2 linked regions of the Homo sapiens genome follow. The protein of the gene in region 2 purifies or fractionates together with the protein of the main gene of each other region. This does not show direct contact. Each region holds a gene or a part of one and is shown on either strand. Other genes may lie near its edges. The genes, in order: POTEF and DOC2B.

Region 1 (3,821 bases), on a different chromosome or scaffold from region 2:
GAAATGCAGAAAATAATCTTATTTTATAAATGTAGTTTTCAAAATCATATGAAGTCACTGGAAAAATATGGTGAGGTAAATACTGAAATATATCCTTTTCTCAAAGGGAGGATAATGTCACACATGCAGGGCACTTTTACAAATAAAAGTCACTGCATTAGCAGCACCTTCCTTTTAGCACAAGGGTCAGCAAATAAGCACCTGTGGGCCAAATCCAGCCCACTGCCCGTTTTTGTAAGTCAAGTATCTTGGAACACAGCCATGCTTATTCACTTTACAGTCCATAGTGTCAGTTAGCTGGGTGTGATGTTGCACACCCGTGGTCTCAGCTAGTAGAGACTGAGGTCAGAGGATCACTAGAGCCCAGAAAGTCGAGGCTGCAGTCAGCCATGATCACACAACTGCACTCCAGCCTGGGAAACAGAGTGAGACCCTGTCTCAAGAAAATCAATATATGTAGTCCACAAAGCCTAAAATATTTACTAACTAGCTCTTTGCAGAAAAAGCTGGCCAACTCCTGGTTTAGTAGATCAAAGATTCTTTGATGTATTTTAATAAAAGTTTTACCAAATATACTGAAATGTTTATATTAAATATAGATCCCCATGTACAATCGCTTGGCAATATTCAGATTGAGGGTCCAATATTTCAGCACTCAGGCACTGACAACAAAAATTTAGTAACTAGCAATCTTGTTGCTAACAAGGTACAGTGTCAATGTAGCATGTAGCTTCCATTTGCAACACAGCAGATATTACAAGAAATTTAACAAGAACTCTTAAGATGTGTCATCAAACTAAACGCTTTAAATACATTTTAATTGTGAAATAATCAGTATACCCTACATCTAACCTCATTTTTTAAAAATGGTTGCATAATACATTATTTTGGGGATATGGAAATTGAGCTATTTCCTATTGATAAGGAATTAGACTAGCTCCAAATTTTTTACATAATACTATAATAAATGTCCTTATACATAAGTATACATATAACATATCTATACAAATATCCTTTACATGTATTATATATGCTTACTGTTATATATGTGTGTGTGAATATGCTACTCAATTAATGTTCAAAATGTATTTACCAACAGTATATGAAATGTCTTTTTCAATGAAACCATTTCCCCTGCAGCAACACGGATGGAGCTGGAGGCCATTATCCTAAGAAAACTCATGCAGGAACAGAAAATCAAATGCCACATATTCTTACTCATTAGTGGGAACTAAACATGAGAACTCATGGACACAAAGAGGAGAATAACATACACTGGGGCCTACTTGAGGGAGGAGCATGGCAGGAGGGAGACGACCAAAAAACTACCTTTCGAGTATTTTGTTTACTATGTGGCTGGTGAAATAATCTGTACCCCAAGCCTCCATGATACAGTTTACCTATATAATAAACCTGCACACGTACCCCGAAGCTAAAATAAAAGTTCACTGAAAAGAGAAGAAAATGTCTTTTCCCTCACATTTGCCAATACTGGTTATTTTTCAAATAAATTAATGACTGGAAAAAAAACGGTAACTGATTGTTTGCTGATTTTCATTTTTCTGATTAACAGGCAAGGCTCAATATCCTAATAAAAGTATAAAATTTGTTCATCATGAATATTAGCTCAAATTAGGATTAGTTTGGCAGCACAAAGTTACCTCCTGTTCAATGTTGCCATAGGCTTACCTGTGATACTCTTCATTCTCAGTGTCAGGAAATTGCTGGCTTTCAGGTGTTCTGCTCTTCCTTGGAGGAATTAATCCATCATCACCATTGCCAGCAGTGGCACCATTAGTCAGGTTTTCTGGGAATCCGACATGAGTACTTCTGTGCTTCTTCATTTCTTCGATAGCCATAAAATTTTCTAGCTGGAAAATACAGAGAATAAGAAATTATCTACTTTAGGCACATTATCTATTGATAATCAGACTAAAACCAAGAAAGATAAAATAATTGGTCTAAAGCTCCTAAAGTGGCATTACCTAGCATTTTATGGCACCATTCGGGATTATTCCATAATAATGAAAGAATAGCTCTAGGGTTTGCACCTCTTCAAAATTCAATGTACAGAATTCTGAGTTAACTATTTAATTTTTCACTGATGATTTATGCTACTTACATGATAGGATCATGTATGCCTACATTTACTACACTTTGTTAAACAACATAATGTAAAAATCTAATTCAACACAAACGTTTGAATATAAAGGTATACCTCTCTATCACCATCCTTATTTATTTCTGGTTCTTGAGATCTTTTCTGCAGATGTAAAAACAGAAGGTTAATTTGCTTGTTGTATTTCTGTGACATTTCCTCTTTTGGAGTGCATGTTTTTAAAATAATTTTATTCTGAAGTAATCAAGTATGGACAATAAAAATTAGAAAGTAATTAAAATTAAACTGTTAAAATAAATAATAATTAAAATTAAGAATTAACTTTTTAATCTATGTTTAGCTACTGCCACATCACTGGCTTCTAACATGTGAAAAATAATTCACCTTAGACAAAGGGAGAAGAAAAACATGAACCAGCAAACTTAACTTTCTCACTATTTGTTTGGACTAAATTTAATTTGTTATGTGTTAAATCTACCAAAAATGAATCAGCAGATGATTTGTAGTGTTCCAAAATCTTCCTCACTTGAAAAGAGTTTACCTCATGAAACCCTAACTAGTGAGCACCTACAGTGCACTGAAGTGCTTTTTTAAAAGATTCCTAACTGGATTGTAGGCACCCTTTAAACTATTAGGAGCCGAAATCAACACCAAACAGAAAGAAATGCAAATTCTCACATTTTAATTGAAATTATATACTGTCATATGATAGTGTTATGTATCCAGATTATCTGCGTAAGTCCAGTTCTAATATATTCTAATGTGTACTAATGACAGCAGATAAAATTTTTTAATCTCTACTGATTTTCTGCAACTGAAATAAATTAGAATGTTATTGTGTTTGTGCACTAACACCAAAGGTCCCATTCTGCAAGATATGGTTCTTGTAATAGGCAGTTGGGTTGCTTTTATGACCTGGTTCCCTCCCTGAACAGAAACACTGAGGTCAACGAGAGACCACAAGGCAGGATATGTCCTTAACCTTGGTATCAGTGACTGACAATATAAAACTGTGGATTTTCAATCACAGGCCATGATTACTCTTTAACCATGAATCCAGCTCAGGGAATCAGTGTTACATTGTTCATAATTCCTATTGCTTAATAATATGATTCAATCATTGATGTTACTTTCTTTATCATGTTAGGGTGTTGTAAAAATAAAAGAACAAACAAAGTTCTGAAATTTGTTTTTGCCTCTATTCCAAAAGGAGAGATTAGCTATAAGCTAATCAAGAAGGCAGATAAGAATATTTTAAAATAAGAGTATTTTAAATTTTATAGTGGGTTATGTTGAAGTTAAATATCAAATATTAAATTAGAATCTATTGATTCTTCTGTTAATAAGGTTGCTGATTTTATTACAATAAATTTTAAGAATCTATTAAAATTTTTTTTTTTTTTTTTTTCACATGGAGTCTCGCTCTGTCACCCAGGCTGGAGTGTAGTGGTGGATGTCGGCTCACTGCAAGCTCCCTCTCCTGGGTTCATGCCATTCTCCTGCCTCAGCCTCCCGAGTAGCTGGGACTACAGGCACCCACCACCACGCCCAGCTAAGTTTTTGTATTTTTACTAGAGACGGGGTTTCACCATGTTAGCCAGGATGGTCTCGATCTCCAGACCTCGTGATCCACCTGCCTCAGCCTCTCAAAGTGCTGGGATTACAGGCGTGAGCCACCTTGCCTGGCCAAAAGATTCTTAAA
Region 2 (3,821 bases):
TCCTTGAAGTTGGAACTCTACCTGTAAATTTTGATTTTGACAGAGTCTGACTCTTGTCACCCAGGCTGGAGTGCAGTGGCATGATCTTGGCTCACTACAACCTCTGCCTCCCGGGTTTAAGCGATTCTCCTGCCTCAGCCTTCTGAGTAGCTGGGACTACAGTCTAATTTTTCTATTTTTTGGTAGAGACAGGGTTTTGCCATGTCTGCCAGGCTGGTCTCGAATTCCTGACCTCAAGTGATCCACCCACCTCAGCCTCCTGAAGTGCTGGGATTACAGGTATGAGCCACCGCATCCAGATAATACCTGCGTCATCTTTAATACCTCAGGGCTGGGCAAGGCCCTGGCACTAAGGGCCCACTGGAGGCTTGTACTAGTGAAGGCAGGAATGGAGGGACAGATGGTCCCCTGTGCGTTCAACCTCATACAAGCAACTCCAGCCTGGAGGTTCAAAGAAAGGCAGAAAGGTCTGCCCATGACAATGGAGCCTGGTGGATGGAAAAGGGTCACCGTGGCCCCAGTTCCCTGAAGGTGCTACCTGGAGCCTCTCAGGGTGCTGGATGTGGCTCCCTCAGGAGAACCCCGAAGACAGAGTTCTGGTACATTCCTCACCCTGGAGAAGCTGGGAGCCAAGTAGGGAGCCCATCCAGTGCCTTCCCTGCCTCAGCAGCTGCCAGTGCCTGCCTCTCAAGGCAGATCTCAGCTCCAGGCCTCCCCATCCCCAGCCAGCCTGATGCTTCTCCATTCCTTGCCCTCCCGAGACTACCCGGCTTCTTCCTTCTGGCTGCTGCACACCCCAAACCCTCTCTCCTAGGCCCTCAGCCCCCCCAGACAAACCCAGCTTGAGCCCACCCACACACGCCCAGCTTGAGCCCTGTGTCCCCCTGGATCCCCTTAGGACTCTACCAGGCTCCTCTCCCAAGCAGCCCCAGCCACCTCCTTTTGCCCACAACCGTGCCCTGCCTAACACCAAAGTGAGTCCCTCTGGCTACATCTAACCCTTTCTGGAGATGAGACTCCTGTGAGGTGAGCAGGGATGTTGAGCAGGGAAGACATACATGCCCCACCAGCCACCTTCGCCACCTCCCACGCCCAGAGCAGACATGGCTAATCGATCCTAGCATTTGCCCTAGGCTCCAATGCCACCTCAGAATCCTTTTCAACACAGTGCTCAGGCAGCCATTCCTGGTGGATCAGGCCAGGCCTGCGAGATCTCGCTATCTGCCGCTCAGGCAGAGCTTTGTGTGTGAGGGCCTTGATGCCCTGTGCTGCTTGTGTCAGTGTGTGTGGTGTGAAAATTAAACAATATAAACTAGCAGGGGCCAGGCACAGTGACTCATGCCTGTAACCCCAGCACTTTGGGAGGCCAAGGCGGGCAGATCACCTGAGGTCAGCAGCTCAGGACCAGCCTGGCCAACATGGTGAAACCCCATCTCTACTAAAAATACAAAAATTAGCCGGGTGTGGTGGCGCATGCCTGTAATCCCAGCTATTGGGAGGCTGAGGCAGAAGAATCACTTGAACCCGGGAGGCGGAGGTTGAAGTAAGCCGACATTGCGCCACTGCACTCCAGCCTGGGCGACATAGACTCCATCTCATAAAAAAAAAAAAAAAACAACCAACCAGCAGGCATATTTTTAGCTCTTTTTTCAGGGGTGGGACATTGTACTTCGGGTTGTTTCATATGAAGACCACTGGGTCTTGCTCAGTATTGACTTAAAACAGATAATGTTCGCAGACTGTAAATTCTAAAACCTACCGCCAGAGGCCTGGCACAGGGGCTCATGCCTGTAATCCCAGCACTTTGGGAGGCCGAGGCAGGAGGATCACTGGAGGTCAGGAGTTTGAGACTTGCCTGGCCAACATGGCGAACCCCCGTCTCTACTAAAAATACCAAAATTAGCCAGGCGTGGTGGCGCACACCTGTAATCCCAGCACTTTGGGAGGCTGAGGCAGGTGGATCATTCAAGGTCAGGAGTTTGAGACACCTGGACAATATGGTGAAACCCCATCTCTACCAAATATACAAAAATTAACCAGGCGTGGCGGCACACGCCTGTAGTCCCAGCTACTCGGGAGGCTGAGGCATGAGAATTGTTTGAACTCAGGAGGTAGAGGTTGCAGTGAACAGAGATTTTGCCACTGAACTCCAGCCTGGATGACAGAGCAAGACTCAGTCTCAAAAAATAATAATAATAAAAGTACCACCAGAATGTGGCTGTACTGTCAGGGGTGCATCCCCAGCTGCACTCCTGCGGTCACTGTGAGTCCCTGAACGGCACCAATGGGCCGGTAGCGCATCCAGCAACGCCCTGATCATGGCCACGCACAGGGACGCACATGCTTTCACGAACGCACACCACACATGTGGACACACACACTGTCGCACACAGACACGTACTGACATATGCTCTTACACACAATTCACACACGAGCACACACACACACACGCTGACACCCCACGTACATACCCACGTGGTTGTTTGTTTATGCCAGTGATGAAAACTCAGGAACACTAAGGCAGGGCTGGTGTTGCTTTTTTTTTTTTTTTTTGAGACAGAGTCTTGCTCTTGCTCTTGTCACCCAGGCTGGAGTGCAACGGTGCAATCTCGGCTCACTGCAACCTCCGCCTCTCAGGTTCAAGCGATTCTCCTGCCTCAGCCTCCTGAGTAGCTGGGATTACAGGCATGCACCCCCACACCCGGCTAATTTTTTTATTTTTAGCAGAGACGGGGTTTCGCCATGTTGGCCAGGCTCTCTCGAACTCTTGACCTCATGACCCACCTGCCTTGGCCTCCTAAGATGTTGCCTTTCTTAAGTGACATAGACCATGTGGAAAAACCGGGTTACCTGTGGTTAGTGACTAACAATAAAACAGGAAAGGTTATATCCATCACACAAATGTCTGAGGGGGAGAGAATGTGACAAGGAATAAAATTGGATCAAATTCTGCAAAAGTAACTGGGATTCTGGGAAGAAGCCGTGGCCTCAGGCTGACTCGCCCCCGGGGCTTGACTTGGGCTAAGCTCGAGGTGAGTCCACGTCCCCGGGCCCCACTGGGGCTGGGTACACTGGGGACAGCCGCCGGGCTCTGTCCTCCCAAACTTGCCCCTTGCCCAGTCCTCTTAGGGGGACAACGTGCCATCGAGGGGACCATGCCTCCGCCTGTGTCCTGAACGCTGGGAGGCTGAGGCCCCAGGATTTCTCTTGACCCCAGTGGCACGGGGGACTCCTGGCTTCACCAGCCCTATGAACCAGGTGAAGGTGAGGCCATAGACAAGGGAGGATGGGGGAGGGAAGAGGGACATAGAGACCAAGACTCAGAGGGCGTAGCTGCTGGAGCAGGCCGAGGGCAAATCTGTTCTGACATAACGTTGAGACAAATGCCATTTCTAGGAAAGGATACTCTGCTGTCTCCTCTGCGTATCTCACAGGCACTCAGGTCTAACATGTTCCAAGCGTGCTCCTTGCGCGTCCTGTCCACCCGTGGTCCCTGCTGAGTCCTCTGAGTGCAGCAAACAGCCCCTCAGGCTTCAGTGGCTCAGGCCCCAAACCTCGGATCTGCCCTTCCCTCACCCAAGGACGTCCTATCTGCTGCCTGCACATCTGGTTCAGAATCAAGCCCTCCTACCGCTGCCAAGGTCAGGCCAGGGTTGTGCCCATCTCTCCCCATCTCCCCAGGCCTCCTGCCCTCTCCTCCCTCTTCTTCAAGCCATCCTGAGCCCAGGCCAGCGAGCCTGGTAAAATGTCATCCCCCATGATCCCTCAGCTTAGCACCCTCCCGTGGCCACTCAGAGTGAAAGCCAGGGTCCTTCCTCACC

Evidence for each region.
Region 1: the proteins of DOC2B (region 2) and POTEF purify together in Homo sapiens (affinity purification with mass spectrometry; one large-scale study listed by BioGRID and IntAct). This does not show direct contact.

What each region holds. Positions count from the first base shown.
Region 1 is NC_000002.12:130,084,125-130,087,945, forward strand, and holds part of POTEF (POTE ankyrin domain family member F), read right to left. Parts: intron 2,264-3,821; coding exon 2,219-2,263; intron 1,872-2,218; coding exon 1,690-1,871; intron 1-1,689.
Region 2 is NC_000017.11:157,443-161,263, forward strand, and holds part of DOC2B (double C2-like domain-containing protein beta), read right to left. Parts: intron 3,506-3,821; coding exon of another isoform or gene 3,248-3,505; exon of another isoform or gene 2,887-3,247; intron 1-2,886. UniProt on the Homo sapiens protein: Calcium sensor which positively regulates SNARE-dependent fusion of vesicles with membranes. Binds phospholipids in a calcium-dependent manner and may act at the priming stage of fusion by modifying membrane curvature to stimulate fusion.